Linked DNA regions of Homo sapiens. The protein of the gene in region 4 purifies or fractionates together with the protein of the main gene of each other region. This does not show direct contact. Each region holds a gene or a part of one and is shown on either strand. Other genes may lie near its edges.

Region 1 (5,975 bases), on a different chromosome or scaffold from region 4:
CACCATCCCCAGCCTCATTTACATTTTAACACAATTAAATTCAGGGTGTTGTCAGGGTGACTTCCTAGATTTCTCAGTTTTTTGAGCATGATGTAGGGAGTATTTTATTATAGTCCAGTCTATGGGATATTCCCTTATACACACACACACACACACACACACACACACACACACACACACACCCCAAACTCAATAGGGCAAGAACCATATTCATCATCTCTTAAATCCTAGGTCCTGTCACAGGCCACTGCTTGGAAAATAGTTGACTAAATGTAGTCCATTTCTTCCATTTTTACTTTTCACTATTCCCCAAATCCTGGAAGAGTCCCTCATATCTGCTGCTGGGGCTCCAAGGCCTCCAAGCTGAAGCCCAGTACGTTGTTGTGCATAAGATCATAGGCCCTGGAATCATATTAGGCTGGCTTTCAGGTTGCAACTCTACCAGTTCCAGCTGTGTGACTCTGGTATAGTCTCTCAACCTCTCTGAGCCCTGTTTTCATCTGTTGGAAAATATAGATAATCACAACACTTATCTGCAGGGTGATTCCGAGGATAAAAAAGACAAATATATTACCCAGTCAGCTTAGAATAGGAAGCTCTCAGTAAATGGTTAAAAAAGAGGTCTCTCTCCCTCTGCTCATCTCTTACCCAGCTTCACATAATTGGCAGCCCACCCACCTGTTTGGCCCTCAACCTTCAACCATTTCCCAGGACGCCTCCTTACACTCCTGATCATCATGGTTCCAACCCCACTGTTCCACTCAGCTTTGTTCCCTCAACACCACTGCTCCCTGTGACAGGTCATCCTCCTAACCTCTGGCATCTGGTCCCGTTGTCTCCCTGACAACCCGCATGCTCTCCTCCCTGCAACCCCCGCCGCTTGCCTGCTCTCCCTACTTTATTCCCATTAGCCCCCTTCACCTGGGGCTGAGAACACCTGGCCTTGACCCTGCACCCTCAGCCAGGCCCACAGAGCTCAGTCGGGCCGGAAGTAAGGACCCCAGATATTCAGTTGAGGAATTTAACATTAATACAATAATATAGAATCCACCAGCAGATTTTCATAAATGTTCTGTGTGTTCTTTTATCCTTTTTTTTAATCCAGGATTTTATCAAGGAGCATAGATTGCATTTGGTTGTCACGTCTTTCCTCTCCTTTAATCTGGAGCCAGCTCCCAGTCTTTTTATTTTTTTAATGACATGGATATTTTTAAAGAGTCCAGGCCAGTTGTACTTTAAAATGTCCCCGAACCTGGATTTGCTGGCTATTCTCTGATGGTTAGATTCAGATTACACACCTTGGTAGGAATACTTCCCGCAGCATCACACTGGGACTCATCTAACGTCGGCCTGTCCCACTATCAGTGATGCCGAGTTTGTTCGTGTGGTAAAAACAGTGTCCCAGATCTCTCCATTATAAAAATATATTTTTATAAAGATATTTTAAAATATTTGTGAAAATATAAGTAATCTGTGGATGATACTTTGAGATAGGCAGCAACCCTTCATGCAATTTTAGTATTCCCTGATGATCCTTGCCTGTATCTGTTTTTACATCAGTGATTACAAAGCGGTGATGTTCTGTCATTCCTTCTACATGTATTTGCTGGTATTCTTCTGAAAATTACCTGGATGATTTCTTCAGATTTAAATTCACTGTCTTTTCCTTGGGGAAGCCTGGACTGGCTGAGCTGCCTAACCCTGACTCTCTGTCTTTTTTTTTTTTTTGACAGGGAGTCTAGCTCTGTTGCCAGGCTGGAGTGCAGTGGCAACCTTCACCTCCTGGGTTCAAGCGATTCTCCTGCCTCAGCCTCCCAAGTAGCTGGGATTACAGGCGTGTGCCACCATGCCCGGTTAATTTTTTTTTTTTAATATCTATTTTAGTTGAGACAGGGTTTCACCATGTTGGTCAGAATGGTCTCGATCTCCTGACCTCGTGGTCTGCCCGCCCCTGCCTCTCTTCATACCCTCTGGTAGCCCCTGACACAGCCCATGGCAAGTATCACAATTGCAATTACTCTATTGTGTAATTATTTAAAATCAGCCTCTCAGTGCCCACCATGAGCACCGTAAAGATGGACAGTTTCTATCATACTCACAGCCACAACCCCAGCACCTGGCTCTGTGTCTGGTACATAGAAATTGCTCAAGAAAGAATTGTTGGAGGGGCGCGGTGGCTCACGCCTGTAATTCCAGCACTTTGGGAAGCGGAGGCAGGTGGATCATGAGGTCAGGAGTTCGAAACCAACCTGGCCAATATGGTGAAACCCCATCTCTACTAAAAATACAAAAATTCGCTGGGCATGGTGGCATGTGTGCACTTGTCGTCCCAGCTGCTCAAGAGGCTGAGGCAGGAGAATCACTTGAACCTGGGAGGCAGAGGTTGCAGTGAGCCGAGATCGCGCCACTGTACTCCAGCCTGGGTGACAGAGCGAGACTCCAGCTCAAAAAAAAAAAAAAAAGAAAAAAGAAAAGAAATAATTATTGAATCAATGGAAACAGAATTACAACTCTTCCCACTTTTGGGAAGGAGAATTGAGATTCCTGCTTTCCCCTTCAACCCTAGCTTTATGTTTGTTGTGATGGTATAGAGGTCACACATGGCAGCCTTGTGTCTGTTCTTAGGCTGAGTTCATCTACTTAGGGACGGGGAATCCCAGATTGGGCAAAACCAAAAGCAGGGACAGACCTTGGAAAAATTGTAAAGCAGTTCTTGGTTGTGCTCACCCACCATGACAAAATATGCACACACACAACGCAACACACACACAGACATTTTCATGCCTTCAAGGCCTACCCTACAGCCTTTCCCATGGTGCCAAACCCTTCTTCTTACCTTACAGTCACTTAACTGTCTCTGCTGGTCTCTTCCCACTCATTTAGGCAACAAATATTTATTGAAAAACTTCTCTGAGCCAGATGGTGCCAAACAGTTACCTAAAGGGCAGACTGTGTGTGTGCCAGGGCTGTTTCCCGCCAACACTCCCCTGCAAATTGAAATAATTTCATCCTTGGAAATTCAAAAAAATCATGAAAATTGTCACTGTGGGAAAATTCCAAGTAGAGCTGAACCTTCTAAGAAGCAGAGAGTTCTTCTTATGGTTTAGTATTTTTTTAAATTATGAATCATTTCATGTTTTTTCAACACTCGGAGTTTCTAAAAGTCTCACTTAGGTCCAAGTGCTAGGCTTTGTGCTAGGTGCTTCAGTAGGAAGCAGGTGGAGTCGCTGCCTCACAGAAGCCAGTGTGGTGGAGGAACAGACAGGCACTACAACAGCTGCAGTGTGACTAGTGCCATGTGGGGCAGCCGCTGGGATGGGAGTACAGTGGAGGCACCTGCCCAGTCTGAGTGGATCTCCTCTGATATATTTTATTCGTGTCATCATGGCAAATGTTGGGGGACTGGCATTCTAGGGAACACCATCTGCCCAGGATTCACAGCAAGAGGGAACTTGAGGGATAGGAAAGTGCACCTTGGAAAAGGTTTGATGATAGAGTGTTTGAGGGCGGGGGGTGGGGGTTCTTGTAAAATAGGAGGGGCAGGTTCTTCTATGGCCGTGGATTTTACTCTGAGGGCTTAGGAAGCCATTGAATTTTAGAAATTTCTTCTCCCTGCTCCAGGGTCTCTTGGGGCCTCCTACATCTCCCCCTAGGTACCTCCTAGGTCCCCACTTTTTCTCTAGCTCTGGAACATTCTCTTCCATTTCCCACCTTCACAGTCCTCTGGAGAAGGTCTGATCTCCCTCACTATGACAGGAAGCCAGGCTCTCTCATGGTGGGTGGGGGAATGCACTATGTTCAATGCATTGGACCAGCCTGGCCAACATGGTGAAACCCCGTCTGTACTAAAAATACAAAAATTAGCCTGGCACAGTGGCAGGTGCCTGTCATCCCAGCTACTTGGGAGACTGAGGCAGGAGAATCGCTTGAACCCAGGAGGTGGATGTTGCAATGAGCCAAGATCGCGCCACTGCACTCCAGCCTGGATGACAGAGTAAGACCCTGTCTAAAACAAAAAGAAAAAAGCATCGGAGGCAGCAAAGAGCTGGTTTGAGGGACTGACTTGTGGGATTCTGGCTTCTGAAGGATTGTAGAAGTGCCTCCTACCTTGCTGAGAGAAACAGGTCTTGGGCATGGGGTAGGGTTAGGGTACTAGGTTTGGGAGCCCTGGGAGAGGACAGGAGGGGCATGAGCTGTGCCGGCCTGGGAGTCTGTGCTCACCATCCTACTCTCTCCCCAGCTCCCAAAATGGCGATGACACCGGCACCTGGCCCAACAACCAGTTTGACACAGAGATGCTGCAAGCCATGATCTTGGCGTCCGCCAGTGGTAAGTGGTGTCAGTGTGTGTATGGAAGAGTGGGAGACCTGGGGTTCTGGGGTGCATCTCACAGCCACCATGCCCACGGACTGGATGTCAAACCTGTGTAGTTTCTCCAGATCTTTCGGCAGGTCTGAAAGGACCCACAATTCCAAACATAAAGCCTGGAATTGTGGCTAAGGAACAGCAGAGGGGTTGGGGGTCCTGGGATGCCTGGAGGAGAGCGAACAAGGAAAAGACTCATGGAGGGAATAGTGGTTACAAGTCTAGCTCTGGAATGGGACAGTGTAGCTCAGGTCCTAGCTCTGCTACTATCCTTGGGACTTGGATCGACTTGCTCAATCTCTCTAAACCTCAGTTTCCTCAGCCTAGAAAGTGGGGACAGGGACCCCAAAGGGTTGTTGTAGAGATTAAATGAGATGATACCACAAAGCATAGAGTTCTGGGCCTGGCGCTTGGAAGCCCTCAAGCAATGAAAGTGGGTGTAGAAATCCCCAGCCGAGAGAACACCTCCTCTTTATGCGAGGCTCCTCTTTTGCTGCCCCTAACTCCAGAGTAGGATTCTGGTTTTCCCATAAGGTTGACTAAGGGCTTCCTTTGTAATAGAGATTCGGCTAGTGGTGGTTGTCCCTGAAGAGTCACTAGGGCCCAGAGCAGGAGAAGAAGAATATCATTTGTCCTTAAGAGCACAGCCTAAGCTGGGCGTGGTGGCTCACGCCTGTAATCCCAGCACTTTGGGAAGCTGAGGCAGGAGGATCATGAGGTCAGGAGTTCGAAACCGGCCTGGCCAACATAGTGAAACCCTGTCTCTACTAAAAATACAAAAATTAGCTGGGCATGGTGGTGCGTGCCTGTAGTCCCAGCTACTTGGGAGGCTGAGGCAGGAGAATCGCTTGAACCTGGGAGGTGGCTGTGGTGAGCAGAAAATCGCACCACTGCACTCCAGCCTGGGCAACAGTCTCGCTCTGTCTCAAAAAAAAAAAAAAAAAAAAAGAGCACAGGCTTTAGAGGCAGGCCAATCTGGATTCAAATCCTGGCACCTGGCACCACCACTTAGCAATGAGTCCTTAGGTAAGTTATTAAACCCCCTCGGTTTCACTTACTATTAATGGGCACAGTATTAACGGATCTCATTGTGGTGTTACCAGGGCCAAATGCAAGTCCCTCAGCACAGGATTGGCAGAGAGTAAGGGCACAATATATTATTATCTTTGCTGACCCAAACCCGTTTTTTACTGGGTAGAAAGCAGAATTAGAATAATGCCTATTAATAAAGACTAGCTTCTGGAGCAGCAAATCCTGGGCTTATAAGGAGGCTGGCAGAGGATCAAGGCATTGCCCTATATCATGAACTGATAGCCCTGCCCTCCAGCATGTCTGGAGGACTGGTGGGTAGAGAACCAGGTGAAATCACAAGAAGCACTGTCATCACACCTGGGCACATACTAAACAAACTTTAGGGGCCTCCTGTCAATGAATCCTCTCAATAGCTCTGCAAGGCAGGTCTGATTTCTCACACTCGACAGATGAGAGAACCGAGAAGGCACTTGCCCCAGGGTCCTCAGTTTTGAGCTGCCAAGCTGAGGTTCTAACCTGGCTCAACTCCTAAGTTTATGCTCTTTCTACTATAGGGACCATGGCTGCCTTTGGATCCA
Region 2 (5,975 bases), on a different chromosome or scaffold from region 4:
GTAATAATAATAATAATAATAATAAAACTTAAAAATATATATAATAATATCACAATATATAGGGTTGCTATGAGGAATAACCTGTTATGCAATGTGTTTAAAACAGTACCTGACACATAAGTGTACAATAATAGTATAAAAATAATTACTATAAATAGTAAAAAATAATAGTATAAAATATTACTATTTTATACTATTTTATAATTTTCATTTTACAGCCAAGAAACCAAGGTAGGTGATTTAACATTACTTAGCTAACAAGTGGCAGAGGTAGAACCCAAACCTACACCTTCTGACCTCCAAACCCTAAGACCGTTCCCATTGGACCACAGCTGCCTTCAGCCATTCTTATCTGGAATAAGTCACCACAAATGATTATCAACTTGTTTCCCTGCCTTACCCTCTTGTTCCCTTGGAGTCTTCCTTGTCAATCACTTACCAAGGTAACATTGAGTAGGTGATACTCTTACTCAGGCACCTTTCCAGGCTAGGACTACCTGCTCTGGAGGAATATCTGTTAACACATCAGACAGACGAAGGCTTCTCTCAAGTTTTCCAGCTGTGTTGACTGAACAAAACTACTATGATACACTATTATACAATTCTCTAAAAAACCAATAGGCCGGGTGTGGCAGCTCACACTTGTAATCCCAGCACTTTGGGAGGCCGAGGTGGGCGGATCACTTGAGGCTAGGAGTTTGAGACTAGCCTGGGTAACATGGAGAAACCCCGTCTCTATTGAAAATACAAAAAATTAGTTGGGCATGGTGGCACGCGCCTATGATCCCAGCTACTTGGAGGCCGAGGCACGAGAATCGCTTGAACCCAGGAGGCAGAGGTTGCAGTAAGCCAAGACAGCACCACTGCTTTCCAACCTGGGCAACAGAGCAAGACTCTGTCTCAAAAAAAAATAAAATAAAATAAAATAAAAATAAAAAATAAAAAGCCAATGGTCTTAGCTGAAATGCATAACGAAAGGGCTAAGACAAAACTTTCTACAGGAAGTGTACAGATCTGAAATATCAACTATAATCTAATGTTAGCACCCTTACAGAACAGTTTTTATTTCATGCACTCTCCTGATATTTGTCCACGTACACATTTTTCTATAACTGCAATCATGATGCAATTTGAACTTATTCAAGCTTTTTCATGTTTTTTTTCTTTTTTAAGAGATTGCTGGTTTCAAACTCCTAGGCTCCAGTGATCCTCTCGCCTCGGCCTCCCAAAGTGTTACAATTACAGGTGTGGGCCACCACGTCTGGCGAATATTTTCTTCTATAAAATTAGTTCCTTAACTCCTGCGTCAAACAGTATAAACTTCCAGATAGGGATTTACCAATATATACCATGAGGCTTCAAAATACTTACATAATCTAACCCAATTATTCCACGTATAGGAATTTATCCTGATGCAATAATGAGATATATAAAAATATTTATATAAGGCCAGGCACGGAGGCTCACCCCTCTAATTCCAGCACTTTGGGAGGCCAAGGCAGGCGGATCACCTGAGGTTGGGAGTTAGAGACCAGCCTGACCAACATAGAGAAACCACATCTCTATTAAAAATACAAAATTAGCCAGGTGTGGTGGTGCATGTCTGTAATCCCAGCTGCTTGGGAGGCTGAGGCAGGAGAATCGCTTGAACCTGGGAGGTGGAGGTTGTGGTGAACCAAGATCATGCCATTGCACTCCAGCCTGGGCAACAAGAGTGAAACTCCGTCTCAAAAAATAAATAAATAAAAATATTTATATATAAAGTTGTTCGGTCAGGCGCGGTGGCTCACACCTGTAATCCCAGCACTTTGGTAGGCCAAAGAGGGCAGATCACTTGAGGTCACAAGTTCGAGACCAGCCTGGCCAACATGGTGAAACCCCGTCTCTACTAAAAATACAAAAATTAGCTGGGCTTGGTGGAGGATGCCTGTAATCCTAGCTACTCGGGAGGCTGAAGCGGAGAATCACTTGAACCTGGGAGGTGGAAGCTCCAGTGGCCACTACACTCCAGCCTGGCCAATAAAGTGAGACTCTGTCTCAAAAAATAAAATAAAATAAAATAAAATAAAATAAAATAAAATAAAGTTGCTCATCACAGTATTATTTATAATTGCAAAAGGCTAGAAGTAGTCCAAATGGTTACAAAACTTCTGATGTACCAATATGATTAGCATGTAACCTATAACTATATAATTAAAGAATATTTAATGATGGCCAGGTATGGTGGCTCATGCCTGTAATCCCAGCACTTGGGGAGGCTGAGGCATGAGCCCAGGAATTTGAGACCAGCCTGGGCAACATGGCAAAACTAGCCAGGCATAGTGGCACCTGCCTGAAGTTCTAACTTTTCAGGAGACTGAGGTGGGAGGATCACTTGAGCCCGGGAGGTGGAGGCTGCCTGCAGTGAGCCGAGATCGTGTCATTGCATTCCAGCCTGGGTGACAGAGTGAGACCCTGTCTCAACAACAAAAAAAATTTAAAAAAAGAAATATTTAATGAGAAAAATAATTCATGTATTTCATGCTATTACTTAACTCTTACGACTCTATAGATATCCTTATTATTCCTGTTTTACAGATAAGGAAACTGGGTCTTGGAAAGGTTAAGTAACTTGCCGAAGCCCACAATACGGTACAGCCAATAGACCTGGAATTTTAGCCCAGAGCATATATTCTTTTTTTTTTTTGAGACGGAGTCTCGCACTGTAGCCTGGGCTGGAGTGCAGTGGCGTGACCTTCGCTCACTGCAACCTCCGCCTCCCGGGTTCAAGCGATTCTCCTGCCTCAGCCTCCCACGTAGCTGGGATTACAGGCGCCCGCCACCACGCCCAGCTAATTTTTTGCATTTTTGGTAGAGACAGGGTTTCACTACGTTGGCCAGGCTGGTCTCAAACTCCTGACCTCATGATCTGCCCGCCTCGGCCTCCCAAAGTGCTGGGATTACAAGAGTGAGCCACTGCACCCAGTGACATTCTTTCATAATAGCTGGTTTTTTTCTTTATGTTTTTGTGGGGTATCAAAATTACTGCCAATAAACATGTTACTCATATAATTTAAATAAATGTTAATTTTAAAAATGAATTTGCTGGCTGGGAGTGGTGGCTCACACCTGTAATCCCAGCACTTTGGGAGGCCGAGGTGGGCAGATCACCTGATATTGGAAGTTCGAGACCAGCCTGGCCAACATAGTGAAACCCCATCTCTACTAAAAATACAAAAAAAATTAGCCAGGCATGGTGGCGGGCGCCTGTAATTGCAGCTACTTGGGAGGCTGAGGCAAGAGAATCGCTTGAACCTGGCAGGCGGAGGTTGCAGTAAGCCAAGATTGCACCATTGCGCTCCAGCCTGGGTGACAAGAGTTAAACTCCAGCTCAAAAAATAAATAAATAAATAAATTTGCTATAGGTTCTTGAACTCTCCATTTAAGAACTCTTTCTTATATGTCAAAATATTTTAAGACACCCCCTCCACAACACCCACAGCAGTACTTTCAGTATCTGTTCGTTCACAAATTGTCCAATGACCAAAAATAACCATGCATTCAGCATTCAGTAATGCTTTTTCTAGCAATGGGATTTTTTTTTTTTTTTTTGAGACAGAGTCTTACTCTGTTGCTTAGGCTGGAGTGCAGTGGCGCAATCTCAGCTCACTGCAACCTCCACCTCCCATGTTCAAGCGATTCTCCTGCCTCAGCCTCCCGAGTAGCCGGGATTACAGGTGCGTGCCACCATGCCCAGCTAATTTTTGTATTTTTAGTAGAGATGGGGTTTCACCATGTTGGCCAGGCTGGTCTTGAACTTCTGACCTCAAGTGATCCACTGCCTTGGCCTCCCAAAGTGCTGGGATTACAGGTGTGAGCCGCCATGCCAATGGGAATTTTTTTTTTTTGAGATGAAGTTTTTGCTCTTGTTGCCCAGGTTGGTGTGCAATGGCATGATCTCAGCTCACTGCAACCTCTGCCTCCCAGGTTCAAGTAATTCTCCTGCCTCAGCCTCTCAAGTAGCTGGGATTACAGGTGTGTGCCACCATGCCTTGCTAATTTTGCTTTTTTTTTTTTTTTTTTTTTTGGGAGATAAGAGTCTCGCTCTGATGCCCAGGCTGGAGTGCAGTGGTGCAATCTCGGCTCACTGCAAACTCCGCTTCCCGGGTTCACGCCATTCTCCTGCCTCAGCCTCCTGAGTAGCTGGGACTACAGGCACCCGTCACCATGCCTGGCTAATTTTTTATAGTTTTAGTAGAGACAGGGTTTCACCATGTTACCCAGGATGGTCTCCATCTCCTGACCTCGTGATCTGCCCGCCTCGGCCACCTAAAGTGCTGGGATTACAGGCGTAAGCCACCGCGCCCGGCCTAATTTTGTATTTTTTTTAGTGGAGATGGGGTTTCACCATGTTGGTCAGGCTTGTCTCAAACTCCTGACCTCAAGTGATCTACCCACCTTGGCCTCCCAAAGTGCTGGGATTACAGGTGTGAGCCACCACGCCCGGTCACCAATGGGATTTTAATAACCACAATAATACCTATGGATTCACAGACCTCCAGTCCCTCAAGATGTGGCCTATATGGTGGAAACCACCAGCAGAGGGAACCCAGGTCAACCAGTGAGAAAAGACAGAAATCACAATAGTGGAAATAATAACGAAATAGCGACCTTTTCAATCTTTTTTATAAACTTGTTGCTTTTTAATAGGTGAGATAGTCCCATGGTTTGAAAATGTAAAAACATAAAAAGGTATAAAGTCTCCCTCCCACCCTTTCCCCCATCTGCCCAGCTCCCACCACCACTATTACCCGCTAACACCCTTATAGCTATTCATTTATGTATTAATATTATTCAGGCATATGCAATCAAATACAAATGTATGTTTTTGCTTTTTTTACACAAATGATAGCAAAATGATACTTGCTTTTATTTCTTAACAGTATGTCATAGAGATCTCTCCATATCAGTACATGCAGAGCTTCTTCATTCTTTTTTATAGCTGCATAGTATTCCACTGTTTATATTCACCATCAATGATTATTTAATCAATCCCCTACTCATGAACATTTGGTTTGAAATAAAATCCCTTTATAACAAAGCATATGTTCAAATACATTTATTGTACCTGCTAACAAATCCAAAATACTGGGAATCCAACCTCCTACCAGGACTTCTACCCATACTATGTAGAAACCAGAAGAGTCACTGAAAGGAGATGGTGATGGAAGCAATGCTAGTCTGACACCACCCACTCCAACCTCCAGAACTGAGGAAAAGCACTGGCCCACATGCACTCTCCATTAATTGTGGGCATATATACCTGGGAGGGGCAGCCTGACATAACTAAAGGAGAAGTGGAGTCAGGAGACCTGGGTATGAGCCTTAGTTTCACCATTTCCTGGCTACCTGATTCTGTGCAAGTCACTTAAACTCTCTGAGCTTCAGGTTCCTCATCTGCAAAATGAAGATAATAATATTTTAACTCAACAAGCTAATTGTGAGGACTACAGAAGATGAATACACGAACATACTCTGTAAACCATAAAGTGTAATACATACACTGTATGGTTTTTCAACAATGATGCAAATTGTTATTATGGGTCAATATCAGCAAGAATAACTTAGAATTTATATAAATATACATGTATGTACAGAAAAACTTACCAATAAGAGTCGCCAAAGAGCAATGAGGTACTGTTGGCGTGAACCTGATAATAACCAGATATTCTTCTTCATTTATCTCCTGAACTTCCACACAACTTTCCGAGACCACTTCCAGTTCTTCTAAAGTATTGGGCTTTTCTGGGTCCCGGATAGTTCTAATCAAATCTAAAGAATCATCAGAGATAAGATATTCTATTAAAACATGACTATTCTAAATAAAGATGATTTTGCCAGGCCTAATTTAAGCACTGACTTCTCTTACGTTTAAGCAAATAGTACAGCAACTCCCAGGTTTCTGACAGAAATTTTCACTACTGGTTTCCTCTTGA
Region 3 (5,252 bases), on a different chromosome or scaffold from region 4:
TCCCAGGGAGGGAAAAGCCTGGCCCAGAGCCCCACGCCCCCCGCCCACGTGGCTCTGCCCTCCCGCCAGATGGGCTCACAGGGCCACACCCTCTCACCCCAAGACCATTCACCCTCCGAGTTGCTGCTGTCCTCCTCGCCCTCCTCCTCGTCCTCTTCATCGTCTTCCACCCCATGCCGAGTGCTCAGGGGCCTCAGTATCCCTGAGGAACAAGAAGCAGAGTCCATATGACTCCCACCCACAGGGTCCACCAGCAAAGTCACAGTGGGGGCAGGAGGGTGGCCAGGCTCCCAACACCCTTCCCTCCGCTGACTTCCAGCAGGTGGAGAGGAGCCCTGGGGAGGAACTGGGAGGTCACAGGCCTGGGGACAGAGTTACCAATCCCAGTAGGCCTTCACTTCAAGGAGGGAAGGCGCTGGCACCAGAAGCCTGGCAACACTGAGGTTGGCCCCAGCTGGGCCAGAGACTGGTGAGCCCCCTGCAGGATGGGTACAGGTGGCCCTCGTGGCTCTGGGAAGTCCAGCAGAGCCCTCCAGGCCCACCCTTCCCCTGGGAGCACCACGCAGGCCCCACCTCTCTCCGAGAATCCCTCGGTGTCGTCCTCTTCAGAGCTGTTCAGGTCAAAGAGGTCTTTAAATTGCTTCCTGTCCTCATCCTTCCTGTCAGCCATCTTCCTTCGTTTGATCTCAGGGAAGTTCAGGTCTTCCAGCTGGAAGGCCAAAGAACCAGGGGCTCAGGTGAGAGAGGGCAGGGGCTGGCGGCCACAGCAGGGCCAGGCATCGCCAGACCCACCACCAGGGCCCCATGTGGCCAATTTCTAGTCCCCTCTGTTCCCAAATCACAAAGCCATCCTCCAAGTTGTCCATCCCATGTCCAAGGTCAAAGGCAGAGCCCTTCCTGCTTCTCCTCACGGGCCCCTGGTGCCCACATACTGGCCTGGGTGACGAGGTCAGTCCAGCCACTCCACCTGCCCGGAGCCTCCAGCCCATCAGGCCTGAGGGGGCATGGCCTCCCCAACCTAGTGCAGCCTGGGGCTTCCCCTCCCTGGAAACGCCTGGTTCTGGCCAGTTCTCCAACACCTACCCCCTCTCCAAGTCGAATCATCCGGGCACGGCCCTGGCCGCCTGGCACTGTTTCCAAACCCTCGCCCTGGTCTCAAGTCATAGTGCGCTAGATCTGAAACCCAGGAAGTCACAACACACCCCCAGGTCCCCTCGCCGAGCCGCACCCGCTCTTTGCCACTGATCTCCAGCTGGATCTCCCGGTCACGCAGCTTGCGCCAGTGGCTGTAGTACAAGGTCAGGGGTGTCCCCTCTTCCCGGGTCAGCTTCTCCCAGGCTTCCTGGGGGGTTGGGGGAGTTCAGGGTCATGCCTCACCCTGGGCAAACCCCCACATGTAGCTGGGGCTATACCCTGGCAGGTGCCCTCAGGTGGCACTACCCCCAGGGCCCACTAACCACTGCCTGCTGCTCAGAGACGCCGAAGGAAACCCTCTGGCGGCGGCTGCAGATGTATGCCGAGTTCTCCTGAACCTTCCCAAGCAGCTGCTGCACCTGCCGGCAGTAGTTGGCCACCTTGCACTCCCGGAGGAACGACTTCAGCTGCGGAAGGGAGGGGTCAGCCACTGAAGCCCAGGACCGCTCCATGTGCACAGCTGGCCCAGGTCCTGTGCAAAACCACGCGTGGTGGCCACGGGGATACCCCAGGAGGGGACATGGATCCCATCTCAGGGCTCAAGTGCATAGCTGTTGCAGCTGGGATGGCAGAGGCAGAATCAGCCCACCCTCTGGGCCAACCCTGCCCACTACTCACCTCTGGAAATAAAGTTTTATGCCAGGCGTGGTGGCTCTCGCCTGTAATCCCAGCACTTTGGGAGGCTGAGGCGGGTGGATCACCTGAGGTCAGGAGTTCAAGACCAGCCTGGCCAACGTGGCAAAACCCCGTCTCTACTAAAATACCAAAATTAGCTGGGTGTGGTGGTGGGCGCCTGTAAACCCAGCTCCTTGGGAGGCTGAGGCTGGAGAATCGCTTGAGCCCAGGAGATGGAGATTGCAGTGAGCCGAGATCGCACCATTGCACTCCAGCCTGGGCAACACAGCGAGACTCCATCTCAAACAATACTACTACTACTAATAAAATACAGTCTCGCTGACGTGCAGCCACACGTGTGCATTGCATGGTTCTGCAGTTGCCTGTGCAGCTGAACATCCGTAGGAAGCCACGTTTACCATTTGGCCCCTCACCAAAAACATTTTCTGACCCCTACCCCAGACCCCGACCCTGGGCCCTTGAGTCCAGAAGCAGAGATGCCCCAATGCCAGGTATCACCACCCAAGAGGACATGGGAGGAACAGAGGCTGTGGCCCCTGCTGTGAGTGCCCCCCAGAAAGGGGGTCCCGGCTCTGTGCATGTGACATGTGTGGCCGTGTGTGAGTACACACACATGCACACACCTCTATCTGGATAAGCCTCTGACCAATTGTGGCTCATGTGAGCAGATCCCTCCTCCCCACACTGCACAGACCTATAGTCGGCACATCTGATTCCAGCCACCAGGGCCAGACAGCAGGGCCCCCACCCCTTCCACTAGGCACAGGCCTCCCTGAGGCTGGAAACATCACGGCTGAGAGCAAACAGACCTCCCGTGGGGGCCCAGAAGGACCTTCTGAGGATAAGGAGAACCCCCTCCTCCACCCCACTCCTGCCTAAGATGAGGCTGACGTGGGGTATTTAGCGGGGCAGGCTGGGCCTTCCTATGAGGCTGATGTGGGGTATTTGGCGGGGCAGGCCAGGCCTTCCTGCCACCTGAGAAGCCACTCCACCCACTCCCCACACCCGGGATGGCCTGGGGAAGTGTGCGATCAGCGTACCAGCCTGAGCCAGGGTCGGCATGCTCAGTCCCAACCCCGAAGCAAAGATCAGCCTTGTGGTTCCCACCTGGGGAGGAGGCTGTTGTGCTCCCAGGGTCCTCAGCCCACTGCCCAGGCCTGCCCCCAAACCTCCTGAATGGCTTAGAACCCCTCATCAGCCCCTCCAAGGGGGCCTCACGGGGCGCGTTGCCAGCAGTCAGGTTCCACCCCAGTCCCAGGTACCCGGGACAAGGGCACCTCCTACCAGCCTGGGGCAGCCAAGCCCGTTATAAGACAGTCTGAGTCGGCCACGAGCCGGTGTGGGCAGGACACACACCTGCAGGACCACAGGCAGCACCAGCTCCGGGAAGCCGATGCAGTGTGCCTGGCTGTGCAGGTACTCCAGGGTGAGGTCGTACAGCTGCTCCACCAGGCCGTCCTGAAGAGCAGGAGAGAGGGCCGAGTGCATCAGGGAGAGGCTGGGGCTGGGCACTCAGGCCCCTTCCCCTCAGGCTGTCAGGGCAGCGCCATCTCCAGGGCACGGACTGCAAGGAAGGGGCTCCTGGGCCCCAGCCCTGGGAGACCATGAAGGTCCATGCTTGAACTTGGAGGATGCCAGCCCCCTCCCATCCACCTCAGCACCCCCAACCCCACCCTGGGAACTGCCCAGGCCCCTCCCCAGGAGGCCAGCCTCACCCGGTACGCCTTCTCCTGCAGGTTGACATTGGACAGCTTCAGGATCACGGAGAAGTTGATGGGCTTGGAGCTCATGCGCCCTGGCTTCCTGTTGAAGTCGACCTGCTGGAACATCTGCCCCAAGGGCCGTGTCAGGCTCTCTCGGCCCCATGCCTGGTCACCCTGGCTTCACCCTGGCTGCACCCTGGTCCCCCTGGTCCCTTTGGCCCTGCACCTGGCTGCACCCTGGTCACCCTGGTCCTCAGGCTTCAGCACGAGGAGACCCAACCCGAAACAAGAGATAAGCAGCTAGGCACGGTCCCAGCCCCATGGCCCCACACAGCCTGGCGTGTCCCCGAGTGGGGCTCTGATCAGCAGGGAAGGATCAGGAACACGGGCCCTCTCCCAAAATCCTGGGAAGCACTAAGGACCCACGTCTGGAGACCTAGAGGTCCCTGCCACACAGAGTACCAGGACAGCCCCCATTCCTGACAACATGGCACTGAGGCCCATCCTGGCCCTCAGCACAGCAATGCCACATGGGGCTCCGTCCCGAGCAACCAGAAGACGCAGCAGCAACAGCAAAGAGTGCCAGACACAGGACGGGACAGATGGAGGTCACGGGAGGCCTGGGGGGCCCCTCCCACACCCTCCACAGAAGCCACAGGCCATGCACCTCCGTAGGACATGCCAGGAGGAGCAGAGAAAGAGTCAGCCTGGCCTCTCAGTCTTGTGACCCCTCCCCAACCACTAGGAGCCCTCAGGCTGTGAACCAGAGAGATCCAGGGTACATGCTGGGGCACCAGAGGACAGAAGCAGATTATGGGGGGCCCAAGGGTGGAGGCCCCAGCAAGACACCCCACTCAGCAGGGGTGGCTGCCAGACAGCTGAGCTCAGGTCCAGATGGGAAAACGCCCTGGTACTGATGAACCTCTGGGAGGACACTGCCCTTCTCTAGCCTGGGCCAAAAGTATGGGCAGGCGACTGGCTTCCTGTCCAGGCACCGGGGAAGGGCAGGCACGGCCTACAGCTGAGGGCTTTGTTTTAGCTTTTAGGGTTTGCTTTTTCCGGAGAGGAGAGGCCTGCATCCCTGCGTGAGAGGGGCCTACAGGGTGCGGCTGCAGTGAACCAGGGCAGTGCACAAGTGAAGAAACAGACACTGCAAGAGAGTAAGAAAGCACGTAGCCAAGGAGATTGGACAAGGGAAACAGACACAAAGCATGCCTGGAGCTGGGCAGCAGAGCTGGAGGCCCACAGACACAGGGGCCAGGCCAAGGGCTGGGCAATCAGAGACCACTGCTGGCTGCCATGGGAGTGAACATGGCTTCCTAAAGATGTTCAGCATCCCTGCCTCAGTGGAAGGGGAATCAGAACGTGCCTGGGGCTTCCATACCTTCTGGACCCAGCAACCTGGGGACCCAGCCCCAAGGACAGCTGTGACACGACTCTGGGCCTTCATGAGGCTGAGAACTCATTAGATAAACAGGGTGGAGATCGTGAATTCCTAAATTTACAGCGGGGTGGGGCCTAACCCACCCACTGAAAGTTGAAACTTCGGACTCCAATCTTTCCCTACCTGAGTGGCATGTGCACGTGCAAAGATGCATACACACAGGTACACACAGGCGCACACATGCACAGGCACACACGTAGACGCACGTACATGCACACAGGTGCACACACGCACAGGCACACACAAGCAGACGTGCATGCATGCACCCAAGTGTA
Region 4 (5,975 bases):
TGTGAAGTCAGAAAGGCTTTTGGAATAAGGGCAAAATAGAACTTGTAATTTAAAGAGCCTTTGTTTTGGCCATGAGAAATGCAATTCAAGTTCTAATCGACATAATTTATTCTGCTTGAAATCCAAGTTTTTAATAGGTCAGTTGATTTATATTTCTCATGTTTTGCTAATTAATTGGTAGGTACTAATGTTTAATATTTTGTCTTTCAGCAAATTAAGAATTAATATAGATATTACTGTTGCCATGAAGTGTCAATGTAAGTACACCTTCAACTTGCTGAATCCACATGTAGGTTATGGTTCAAACAATTGCCAAGCAAAAATAAAAATCACTGGTTGTACTTTATTTTTCCTTTATAATATTTTAAAGTTTTACTGTGGTATTATTTAATAATACAAATTGTTTTACTCCTCAGCTTATATTCTTCAAGTTTCTTTTCCATAAAGAGAAGAGATAAAACTTTCACATTAGTATAATTAAAAGAAAGTTGGAGGAAATGTTTGTGAATCAGCATTCTAGTTTATGTACATCCTTTCTGTCTTTTTTTGTTTGGAGTACTAGCTTTTATACCCATGTTTCACAAGCATATCCTTGTGTCACTGTTTCAGTTTACCACCTTTTATGTTTACTCTTGCGTTTAAAAATACAGATCCAGTTATTTTAAGTTAATGGTGATAGGTTACCCTTTTCTTTTTTCGTCACTGGACTCACTTGGTTATACTAATAGAAGTGGAAAAATGCTAATATGCCAGATAGTGAATGTTTGAATCAATACTGTTTTCAAAAATAAGAATGCTTTTGCATGAAAAATATTTTATGAGTTACTGCTTAAAAATTACAGACCAAGAACTCAGAGAAAATTTTTACATTTTTAAAAGTATGAAATAATTTTACCCAATTAATTAGAGGTTATTTTCTGTGAGATTCTATCTCAGAACGACCTTGAATCTCTTTCTTTTCAATATGTTTTTCCTTATGTTGGTGGTTTTAAGAGATAAAAAAATACTTTATTTTTAAACTTGTAGTTAGTGGTAATTCTGAATATATGATATTCTGCCTTATTTTGGATGTTTAAATACTGTTAAATTTTAGCCTTTTCCGAATAAAATTTCCTATTTGTTGATTTGTAGCATAGCTTTACGATTTCTTTTAATCTCTAAAAATATTTCTTGGAATTAATATTTTGTTCAGCAGCCACTTAGTACTTGTGATTAGGTTCTTGCCGATATTTGCAAAGCTCTTCAATTCAGTGACGCTTATCCTTTTTAAATGAGATCTTGAATTATCTTTTTTTTTTTATTGGGTAAGAAGTTTTTTACTGGGTAAGAAAAAACATTATTACATTTTGGAATAATCTCCACCTAAGCTATATAAGGCTACTGTTTTAGCTTTTGGACAAATATATCGGAAATTATTCTACATAGTTGGTGAGGTTTTTTTTTTTTTTTTGCTTGGTGAGTTTTCTGTTAGTTGGCTTAATTTGTTTATATTGGGGATGGTTTGCCTCCAAGCATAGAATGTAAAACTTCTAATTCTTTTTTCTATGCAGATGTTGGAGCGGATGTATTGGATTTAGCAGAAACAATGGTTGCATCTGCAGATGGTTTAGTTTATGAACCAGTAAGTTTGATTCACATGGTTTTTTGAAATACACGGGTTGAGGAATCGTACGCTTGAAGACAGATAGTTGCTTTTAGTTTTGTCTGAAATAGTTTTTAGTATAATTCTTTTATTTCAAAAGTAATCCATATTCTTTGTAATAAATTTAGGGGGAAAAACAGAAAAGTTATATTATATACCAAAATCTTGAGGTGACCATTATTAACATTTTGGATGTATTTTGGATGTGTCTAAAGTCTGTTTTATAACCTTTTTTAATATTTTTGTTATTACTTTCCAGTAGTTTCCTTTTCACTTTTCTTCTAGTTATAGTGATGAGTTTTTTTCTTTTTCTCTAGTAATTTGGAAACTTTTATGTCCTGTTTGTATTCTACTATGACCAAATTTAAGTATTTAAAATATTTGAACTGTATTTCTCTTACAATCAAGAATAAAGTAGTATCTTTCTAAGAGGAGAAATGTCATGGGCATTACTACTTCCTTCCTCCTTTACGCCTCTATTTCCCTCAGCGTGTGAAATGCTGACATTTTCTTATTATCTTCAGAGCACAAGTTGAATATAACATCGTAGATTTATCAGAAAATATTGTCACATTTCAGTGGCAGATACAGTGATAACGAGTCATGATCAGAACTAGCCCTAAATAAGCTTTCGAGAATAAGCATGAGGCCCTCAGCAGCTAAAAGTTGCTCTGTTGGCATGGTGGTACTTAAATTTACGCATGCGTTCTTGAGTTCCTTTTCTTAATCATTGACAATTGTGAACCTTTCTTTTAGCAAATTTGCAAAGTGAAGAGTGAAGGTGAAGGAGGGGGAGTAGAAGTGACTGAATGTATGGGGTTAAAGGAAAGAAAATGAAGTCCTTGGCCAGTTTTGATTATTGAATTAATTTTAGTTTACAGCTACAAACTTGATATGTGCCTTTTGACATATACATTTTAAATAGAAATTTCTACAGAAACAGTAACTTTTGTTATTGCCACTCTGACTCTACTTTCTGACTCGTTTTCCCACTCAAAAAATCGATTTTGAAGTAATTTTTTATGAGCTTAGTTACCTTACAGATTCATATATGACAGCATATTACACTATTATCTGCTCATTTTGATCTAAGTGATTATTATTAGATATTTTAATATTTGTATTACATTTTATACTATCTTAAGAATACTTATTTAACTTTAACTTTGTTTTTTTTTTTTTAATTTTCTGCCATTCTTACCTTATTTTTGTTTATCATTTTGAAGAGGGACTGTTTTTTCAACTTTTAGTTTAGATTCATGGAGTACATGTGAAGGTTTGTTACCTGAGTATATTGTGTAATGCTGAGGTTTTCAGGTTATGATTGATCCCATCACCCAGGTACTGGGCATAATAACTAGTAGTTTTTCAATCCTTTTCCTTCTCCCTCCCTCCCCTCTCTAATAGTCCCCACTTTCTGTTGTTGCCATTTTTATGTCTATGAGTACCCAGCGTTTAGCTCCCACTTATAAATGAGAACATATGGTGTATGGTTTTCTGTCCTGCCATTTATTTGCTTAGGATTATTGCCTCCAGCTGCATTCATGTTGCTGCAAAGGATAAAAGTTTCTTCTTTTTTATGGCTGCATAGTATTCCCTGGTGCATGTATACCACATTTTGTTTATCCCATGTACCACTGATGAGTACCTAGGTTGATTCCATGTATTCGCTATTGTGAATGGTGCTGCAATAAAGATCAGAGTGCATGTGTCTTTTGCATACAATGATTTATTTTCCTTTGAGTATATACCCAGTAATGGGATTGCTGGGTTAAATAATACTCTACGTTCTTTGAGAACTCTCCAAATTGCTTTCCACAGTGGCTGAACTAATTTCCATTTTTACCAGCAGCATATAAGTGTTCCCTTTTCTCCACAGCCTCTCCAACATCTTTTTTTTTTTTTTCTTTTTGACTTTTTAGTAATAGCCATTCTGACTGGTGTGAGATGGCCTCTCATTGTGGTTTTGATTTGCATTTCTCTTATGATTACTGATATGGAGCATTTCTTCATGTTTGTTGACCACTTGTATATCTTTTGAGAAGTGTGTGTTCATGTCCTTTGCCGACTTTTTAATGGGGTTGTTTTTTACATGTTCAATTTATTTAAATTCCTTATAGATTCTGGATATTAGACCTTTATCAGATGCATAGTTTGTGAATATTTTCTCACATTCTGTAGGTTGTCTGTTTACTCTGTTGGTAGTTTTTGTTTTTGTTTTCTGTGCAGAAGCTCTTTAGTTTAATTAGCTCCCACTTTTCAATTTTTGTTTTTGTTGCAATTGCTTGTGGGGACATAGTCATAAATTCTTTCCCAAGGGTGATGCCCACAATGGTGTTTTCTAGGTTTTCTTCTAGGATTCTTATAGTTTAAGGTCATTTAAATCTTTACCCATCTTGAGTTAATTTTTGTATATGGTGAAAGATCTGGGCCCAGTTTCATTCTTCTGCATATGGCTAGCCAGCTCTCCCAGCACCATTTATTGAATAGAGAGTCCTTTCTCCATTGCTTATTTTTGTTGATTTTGTCAAAGATCAAATGGCTGCAGGTGTGCAGCTTGATTTCTGGATTCTCCATTCTGTTGAGGGGGGACTTTTTGAGATTTATTTTACAGCAAGAATGTGTAGGTATGTTTTATGGATTCTAGCATGACTGCCTGTATCTTCTGCTATTATCTTTTATTACCCATTTTCTCTGTTGCTCTGAACTGGGAAAATCCCTTTCACATGGGTTTTTCTATCCTATGAAATAAACTTATTTTGTGCTCTTTCTCAATTTGGTTTCATTTGTATGTTGTCTTGTATAAATTCATGAAAGTTTACAGCATATGAATATTAATTTAAAATGATTTAAGATGATAATAAAGGTTGCATCCTCATTTTTATGTTTCTTTTGGATGCTGAGAATTATTGTTTATGTATTATAATCTTGAATGTATCCTCTAAAAGTCACTTACACTGTTTCTCTAGCATTCTGTCCATATTCTAACTGTTGTGGTCACTCTCTTTTTTTTTTTTTTTCACATTTATGAGATGCCTGATGCTATCTTTTTTTTTCCCCCTACATCTCTTATCTTTCTAGCTGGATTTTAAGCTCTTGAGAATCATTAATTTCATTCTTTCATCTTTGTAGTTCTCAAAATGCATTGCAAAATGCTTTGCAGATTTTAGGCAATAGTGATATGTTAGAATTAAGCAGTTGGGACAGTATTGTTGACTGTTTTCATTGTAAACAGTTTCTGCCATCTCTTCTAGTAGTTTATGGAGCAGGAAAATTTTATTTAAATTGTTATAATTAAAAATTGTATCTTAATGAGAAAGTTAAGAACTTCAAAATATTTAATTGTATACTTTTCATTAGTAATATTTAAAGTGTTTAACCATGCTTTTAGGAAACTATTCATTCCTTTGTGCTAATTTATATAAAAGTGTTTAAGAATTATTTTTAATATAAAATTATTAAAAATATCATTTTAACTTAAAAATTTTTCACTCATTATTTTAATATGCACTCTGAATATTAAAAACCTAGCCCTGATAACTTTACTAGTTTACAAGCCATGATCATACAATATGCTATGATAGTTACTATTCTGCTATTTCTATTGCATTTAGTTACTATTTAAAGACAAGAAGAATTTTTAAAAGGTGGGAAAGTAAGAAATCTGACAGAGCTGAATTTGTGTATTGGTTGTTACTTACTATCTGTGATTTTGGAAAGTTTGTAACTTTTTGAGCTCCTGCTTCCTCATGTGCAAAAAGGGAAGAGGAGTAAAAAATTCACGAGGTGGTTAGGAAGGTTAAGTGAGATAATGAATTAGCATAGGGCCTACAAAGTAGTTTCTTTATACCTTTGTGCTAAGTAAACATTGTACAAAGAAGGTTTTGGAATTCAAAGGAAAAATCATATAGTCGCCACTGTCAATCATTTTATTTATACATTAGCTGGAGAGTAACTGCCAACAGCCTTATTGGTTTGCTGTGTTGTGTTTTATAGATGTTAGCATTTTCCTTATATGCTATAATGTGAAAAAGGTTTGGTAGCATGCTTTAGGCAAATTCATCAGGAGGTGTAATCAAAGGAAACATCAGAAAGATTGGGACAATTTAACTTGAAGCATATAGTTATATAAAACTTAGACATGAGGCTCTCACAGTTACCGGAGAGGCATGTTCCAGATTGATGTAATTAAATTAAAAAATCAAATCACAGAAGTAGAGCTGTGAACTAGGACTAGTAAAGTGGATTTTTTTTTTTTTTGAAACGGAGTTTCACTTTGTGTCCCAGACTGAGTGCATTGGCAAGATCTCTGCTCACTGCAACTTCCACCTCC
Region 5 (5,435 bases), on a different chromosome or scaffold from region 4:
GGACCCCGGCAGCCTTCTGCATGCCCGAAACTTGCCACAGTCAGGAAGGGACCCGCTCTGGCCAGAGGAAACCCATGCAGGTCCAGGGTCCAGAGGGGCTCCTCAAGGCAGTTGTCACCTCTCAGGGCTGGATTCAGTAGGGCAGCAGGCCAGGAAAATATAAAAGACCACTCTTCAGCAAGTCCCCTTACATTTCTGAGCCTCAATTTCCACATCTGCAAAATGAGACATTAATAATGATTGCGTAAACTGATGAAATGTAAGAGACTTTTAGATAAGGAAGCTCCTAGAATACACACACTATTGCTGCCTCCAACGCACACTCACATGTACACACCAACACACATACACCCTCACACACACGCTCACACACATACACACATACACACATACACACATACACCCACACAAGCACATTCCCTTTGTGGGCCTGGCACCTTAGACCCTTGGTGCCCTGGAGAAAACACATGGAGAAGTAAAAATTGAAAGAAGATTCCAATAGGAAACATGAATAGATATCCTCTTACTGCCTGAATAATTACTTCTCTTTCACCTGATCAAGGCTGAGTAAATGTTGATGTCCCTTCCTGCCTTGTGAGCCTCTGCAGGGTTATGTGGACAGGCCTCCTGGCTCCCTACCCAACTCCTCAATCTGCCCACACAGCAGTGTAGCTGCACCCACCGGCCCTGTCCCTGGTGAGGGAGCTTGAAACTCCTGCCGAGTTTGGAGTTTGCATCGCAGAAAAACTCAAGCTGTCTCCAGAGTGCACTCAGCAAGAGCAGCATCTGACTGAATTAGAGCCTGATGCTTTACCTAGCCTGGAAACAGTGATTGAGGGCCCTGCCCTGGGACCTCCAAGCCTCCAGAACACCCCTCATTGGACCCCATCCCCAGGAATCCAAACCCTCACGGAAATCTCACCAGGCCCCCCAGGACCTCTGTCCTCAGGGAGGAGGTAGCAGATCAGAAGACAGTGCCCAAGAGCTTGGGAGGAGGCCAGAGCATGACTCCAGGCTCACTCCCTACTCAGAGCAGCTTCCAGGGCTTGGGTTCCAGGGGACCCAGGAGGTAGCTGCAGGTGTCCCAGCCCCTTGTTGGGGGGTTCCCTCAGCACATTTCAAGCATTTCTTCAGGGATGCACAACCAGGGGGTGCCTAACACTAGCCAAGGGGCAGGGCTGCACCTCTACCATAGCAGCCAGGAACCCAGTGCAGAGTGGTTCTGGAATCGGAATGGGCTGGAGGGAGCAAGTTACACAGAGGCCCCATGAGAGACCCCAGGATCCACTGAACACAGAGCCACCACTGCAGGCCAGATGGCCTGACACCTGTGGGCACGCTGACCTCCCTGTCTCCACACAGTCACCTCATCGGGCAGATGGTGTCCCATCTCAGAGATAGCTGGCCAAGGCTCAGGTGATGGGGATCGCAACCTTTCATGCCCGGCCAAGGCTGCCCCAAGAACATGGAGTAGACTCAGATTCTGTCCCCTACACTGTGCCCCCAATGGGGTCAGGCTCAGGCCACCCACCCAGACCTCCGGTCCAGTGGCATCCACCATGCAGATCCCCAGTGCCAGAACCTGCCTGCCTGGGCATTGAAGGGGAGCTGGGCCTCTAAAGGCAGAGGAACTACCAGGGTCGTGCCTGCCTCCACTCACAGGGGTCCTGGGATCCAGCAAGAAGATCCTGGATCCAACAGCCCACATGCAAAAGACACAGGTCCACAGAACTGGAGCCTGGACAAGGGCCTGGCCAGAGGCCTGGAGATAAAGCCCCTCCACCTGCTCTAGGGACCCCCCAGGACCAGCATCTGCCTCCAGCCAGACCTGACCAGGGCCTCTCGGTCCCCAGAAAACCCAGGCAGGGGTCCTAGCAAGCCCAAGGCAGCTGCAAAGGGAAAACAGAAGAGAGAGAAATCTTCCCTGTCATCCTCAAACCAATGGGTCAGGGATGGGAAGTGCCCAAGGGGCTGCGAGTAGCTAGGCAAGTCCCTCCTCCTGTCAGGCCCCTCTCCTATTGTAACACTCTCTGAGCCCCCTAAGCGCTGACATTCTGGGATTCCAGAACCTCAGTTGTTCCCTATCTGTACAATATGTACAGGGGACTCATCAGTCCCAAGAGATGCACCGTCTCTCTGAATAACATGAAACAAAACAGGAAATTCCAGAAGTAAGGTAACTTTACTCAGATAAAACACAGATGGTAGCAGATAGAGGCCACAAGCTCATGGGATGCCATTCCAGAGGGCCCCTCACCCACAGAGGAGCCCCTGTAGGAAGGAGGCCCAGGCCCCATCCGCACAGCAAGTCCCGGTGAGGGGCTCTAACACACCCCCACTCCAGCCTCTGGTCATGGACACAGCCCATAGCGGGCACAGCATCATGATGGAATGGACTCTGCAGGCCACGCATGGCTCCTGGGAACCCCCAGCCCCTCCCTTCTCCTCCCAGCCTTTCCAGCTGTCTTCCCACCAGGAGGGCTCGGAGGTCACAGCACGGAACGTCTTCCAAGAGCCCCTGCCTATCTTTCTGCCTGGATGTAGGCAGGAGCTGGGGCTGGTGCAGGAGCCAGGGCAGGAACCAGAGATGGGGTCAAGCAAGGAGTCCTAGTCCAAGCAGGGCCTAGACTGCGGCTAAGGCTAGGCTGGATTCTGTGCTAAGAAACAGCATAGAAACCTGCGGGCAGAGGCTCCGGCCCAGCCTGCGGAGCACAGGATGCAGCAGGTGATTTCTGTGCCCAGCACACAAGCTCTGGCCTTATCACATTTTCCTCCACTGGCCCTAGAATGAGCAAAGAGCTTGGGCGGATAGCCTGAGCCTCAGCCAGGGAGCAGGCTGGCCTCGAGGGAGCAGGTCAGCCCAGGAAGGGAGGGGTCTGCCCATGACCAGGTGGGGTGTGGCCACAGTAGCTGGAGATTGGCAGCACCCACCCGCTCTCCCATCCCCAGGGAACTTTCTTCCAGCTTGCCAGGTGTGACCCACTCCATCTCACCGGGACCCTCACAGCAGCGTGTCGGTGCGTTTGCTGCGCCACACCACCAGGCCAGCCATGGCGACAGTCAGAACGACGGGTATAACGATCAGCGGGATGAGAACCTCGTCTGGGGGGTCCTCCAAGTGGACCCTGTCCACGGTGCAGTTGGAGAAGAACTGCCTGTGGATGCCGGTGATGAAGCCCTGGGCCAGGGGGTTGGGCCAGTAGCAGCCCACGACATTGGCCTCCATCTCGGTGCAGTTGGTGAAACTCTCATAGTACCTGCAAAAGCAGAGGGGGTGAAAGCCAGGCTCTCGCCATCCCCCCTCACACCTGCCCTGACCTGAGGCCAGGAAGATGGGTGGGGTGGCTTGGGTACAGTCCCATTTGGCCACCTATTCACAGCCCAGCCTTGGAAAATCCCCATTCTGGCCACAGGGTCATCTGTGCCCATGACCCATTCCCTGTGTCCCCTGCCCACATTTGCATCACAATGACCATGACTTGCTGCCTTTGAGGCCATGAGCTCCCAGGATCCAGGGTCTCAGCCCAGCTTCCCTGGACCTCTAAGCACTACGCAGGTCTGCCCAGAGGACACACCAAGCCATGCTTCTCCAGGGCCAAAGGGTGCCTGGATCACAGCCGCTTGGACCTGCAAAGCCTTCATCATCCAGGATACCCTAAGAGCCTGAGAGGAGGGTCTCTCTGAGGCCAGGGGCCAGCCACCTCCTAATCAAGTCAGCCTGCCCTCATGTGCCAGGTGGTGGCCAAGTGGGAGTCAGACCTGTGAGCCCCAGTCCCTGCCTCTTCATCTCCTACTCAGAAGTTGCCTCCTTCAGCCCCATCTAGCAGGACATGTGGAGCCCCCTCCTGTGGGTCCCCCTGTCCATGAGATCAAAGATGGGAAGGGCACTCAGCAAACCACCCATGATGCTCCATGACCGCCCAGCACAGGCTCTGGACAGTCCTCATGCTGACCAAGGGCTATAGCCACCAAGACCCAGAGGTCAACTCAGCATAAAGGACTTCCCAGCCACCACCTGTTCCAATGGGCAGCCTGTGGAGGTGATGACCTCCCTGTCATTGGGGTCTGCAAGGCCTAGAGTGGCAGCCACTCATTCAGGATGTTCTAGACGAAGCTAGATGGACTCCTGCCCAGATGCCACCCCCTCTGTGCAGGGCTAGCACTTCCCCACGTCTGTGCTGCATGAGTACAGATGCAGGAGTGTGAAGGGTCCTGCCTCGGCTTCCCCATGGGAAAGTAGCCCATCTCCTCCTTCCCGCGCTGTCCCAGGAGGGAGCCACTGATCTGGCCCATCAACAGGAAAGAGCTGCCTCCTGCATGGAACATCATCTGGGCGTAGATTTCCCAAAGCATCAGAAAGGGGTAGGAAACAGGGACTCTGACCTACTCCACCCAGGGTTCTCCTGGTCTCCCAACCCCATGCCCCAGGAAGGGTCTGGGAAGCCCAGGTACAGTCACTCAGCCCAGCTCCTGACTGATCCAAGGCTGGCTCTCAGCACCTTGGAATGTAGGTCAGACACACACCTGTGCCTTTCCAGGTAGTGTCAGCAGAGAACAGCCAGAGCAAAAGAAACAGCCTCGAATCCAAGTACAAAGCTGTTGGCTCTCCTGGGCCTCAGCCACAATGCAGCACCTGAGACATGCCCAGGCATTAGAGACACCTCAACAGCTAGGTCCATGGACAAACCCTCATCTTCCCTGACCTGCTTCTCCCACAGGGCCTCAGATTCAGTAGCCTGCTGTCCACCCCAACCCCCCGCCAGCTGATCCAGGAGCTGGGGAGCCGTCTAACAACACCCTGCAACAGCCTTCACCTTCAGAAGTTCCCAGCATCTATGTGTGTGATGAGAATCACATGCGGTAACCTCTGTGCCTCCAAAGTCATTCCACTGAACTGCTACCCAGGAATGCCACCCCCCAACAACCATCCCCAGGGCTGAGATGAGCCAGACAGACCCTGGAGAAGACCCTCTGTGGACAGCGAGTCTACAGGGCAAGAGGAGTGATGTCTAGCCCCAGAACCGTCCCAAGAGGAGGTGAGGCAGGGCTGAAAGCCCCTGCTGTTCCCAAACCCCACTCCCAGCCAAAGCTAGGCCACATGGAGAAGCCCACGGAGCAGAGGTAATCCCAGAAGACAGCATGGACAGTGGCTTCAGGCTCAGGTTGCAGAGCCAACATGGCAGGGCCTCTCCAACTCCAGCTCAGCCACTCACCATCTTTGTGGTATGGGCCATGTCATTTATCCTCCCTGGACCTCAGTTTCCTCATCTGTAAGTGGGTTTAATAACACTTATCCTATCAGGTGGTTGAGAGAACCAAATGAGTTGAGGTCCATGTGCCCCAGCAAGTGCCTGGCACAGAGGAGGTCATGGGGTGAGCCCACCCCAGCTGTTAGGTTTGGGGCAGAGCTGAGCACAGCACCCATCTCTGTGGAT

The links.
Region 1: the proteins of ERGIC2 (region 4) and PCDHGB4 purify together in Homo sapiens (co-immunoprecipitation; one large-scale study listed by IntAct). This does not show direct contact.
Region 2: the proteins of ERGIC2 (region 4) and CIAO2A purify together in Homo sapiens (co-immunoprecipitation; one large-scale study listed by IntAct). This does not show direct contact.
Region 3: the proteins of ERGIC2 (region 4) and NOC2L purify together in Homo sapiens (co-immunoprecipitation; one large-scale study listed by IntAct). This does not show direct contact.
Region 5: the proteins of ERGIC2 (region 4) and RAMP3 purify together in Homo sapiens (co-immunoprecipitation; one large-scale study listed by IntAct). This does not show direct contact.

Annotation. Positions count from the first base shown.
Region 1 is NC_000005.10:141,501,153-141,507,127, forward strand, and holds part of PCDHGB4 (protocadherin gamma-B4 isoform 1 precursor), read left to right. Parts: intron 1-4,240; coding exon 4,241-4,329; intron 4,330-5,975. Other genes in the region: PCDHGA1 (protocadherin gamma-A1 isoform 1 precursor), read left to right, coding at 4,241-4,329; PCDHGA2 (protocadherin gamma-A2 isoform 1 precursor), read left to right, coding at 4,241-4,329; PCDHGA3 (protocadherin gamma-A3 isoform 1 precursor), read left to right, coding at 4,241-4,329; PCDHGB1 (protocadherin gamma-B1 isoform 1 precursor), read left to right, coding at 4,241-4,329; PCDHGA4 (protocadherin gamma-A4 isoform 1 precursor), read left to right, coding at 4,241-4,329; PCDHGB2 (protocadherin gamma-B2 isoform 1 precursor), read left to right, coding at 4,241-4,329; PCDHGA5 (protocadherin gamma-A5 isoform 1 precursor), read left to right, coding at 4,241-4,329; PCDHGB3 (protocadherin gamma-B3 isoform 1 precursor), read left to right, coding at 4,241-4,329; PCDHGA6 (protocadherin gamma-A6 isoform 1 precursor), read left to right, coding at 4,241-4,329; PCDHGA7 (protocadherin gamma-A7 isoform 1 precursor), read left to right, coding at 4,241-4,329; and 11 more. UniProt on the Homo sapiens protein: Potential calcium-dependent cell-adhesion protein. May be involved in the establishment and maintenance of specific neuronal connections in the brain.
Region 2 is NC_000015.10:64,083,041-64,089,015, forward strand, and holds part of CIAO2A (cytosolic iron-sulfur assembly component 2A), read right to left. Parts: intron 5,812-5,975; coding exon 5,647-5,811; intron 1-5,646. UniProt on the Homo sapiens protein: Component of the cytosolic iron-sulfur protein assembly (CIA) complex, a multiprotein complex that mediates the incorporation of iron-sulfur cluster into extramitochondrial Fe/S proteins.
Region 3 is NC_000001.11:944,945-950,196, forward strand, and holds part of NOC2L (nucleolar complex protein 2 homolog), read right to left. Parts: intron 3,660-5,252; coding exon 3,546-3,659; intron 3,289-3,545; coding exon 3,187-3,288; intron 1,602-3,186; coding exon 1,458-1,601; intron 1,343-1,457; coding exon 1,229-1,342; intron 710-1,228; coding exon 574-709; intron 203-573; coding exon 113-202; intron 1-112.
Region 4 is NC_000012.12:29,362,523-29,368,497, reverse strand, and holds part of ERGIC2 (endoplasmic reticulum-Golgi intermediate compartment protein 2), read left to right. Parts: intron 1-210; coding exon 211-257; intron 258-1,550; coding exon 1,551-1,621; intron 1,622-5,975. UniProt on the Homo sapiens protein: Possible role in transport between endoplasmic reticulum and Golgi.
Region 5 is NC_000007.14:45,180,979-45,186,413, reverse strand, and holds the end of RAMP3 (receptor activity-modifying protein 3 precursor), read right to left. Parts: intron 3,258-5,435; coding exon 3,002-3,257; 3' UTR 2,164-3,001; downstream 1-2,163. UniProt on the Homo sapiens protein: Accessory protein that interacts with and modulates the function of G-protein coupled receptors including calcitonin gene-related peptide type 1 receptor (CALCRL), calcitonin receptor (CALCR) and G-protein coupled estrogen receptor 1 (GPER1).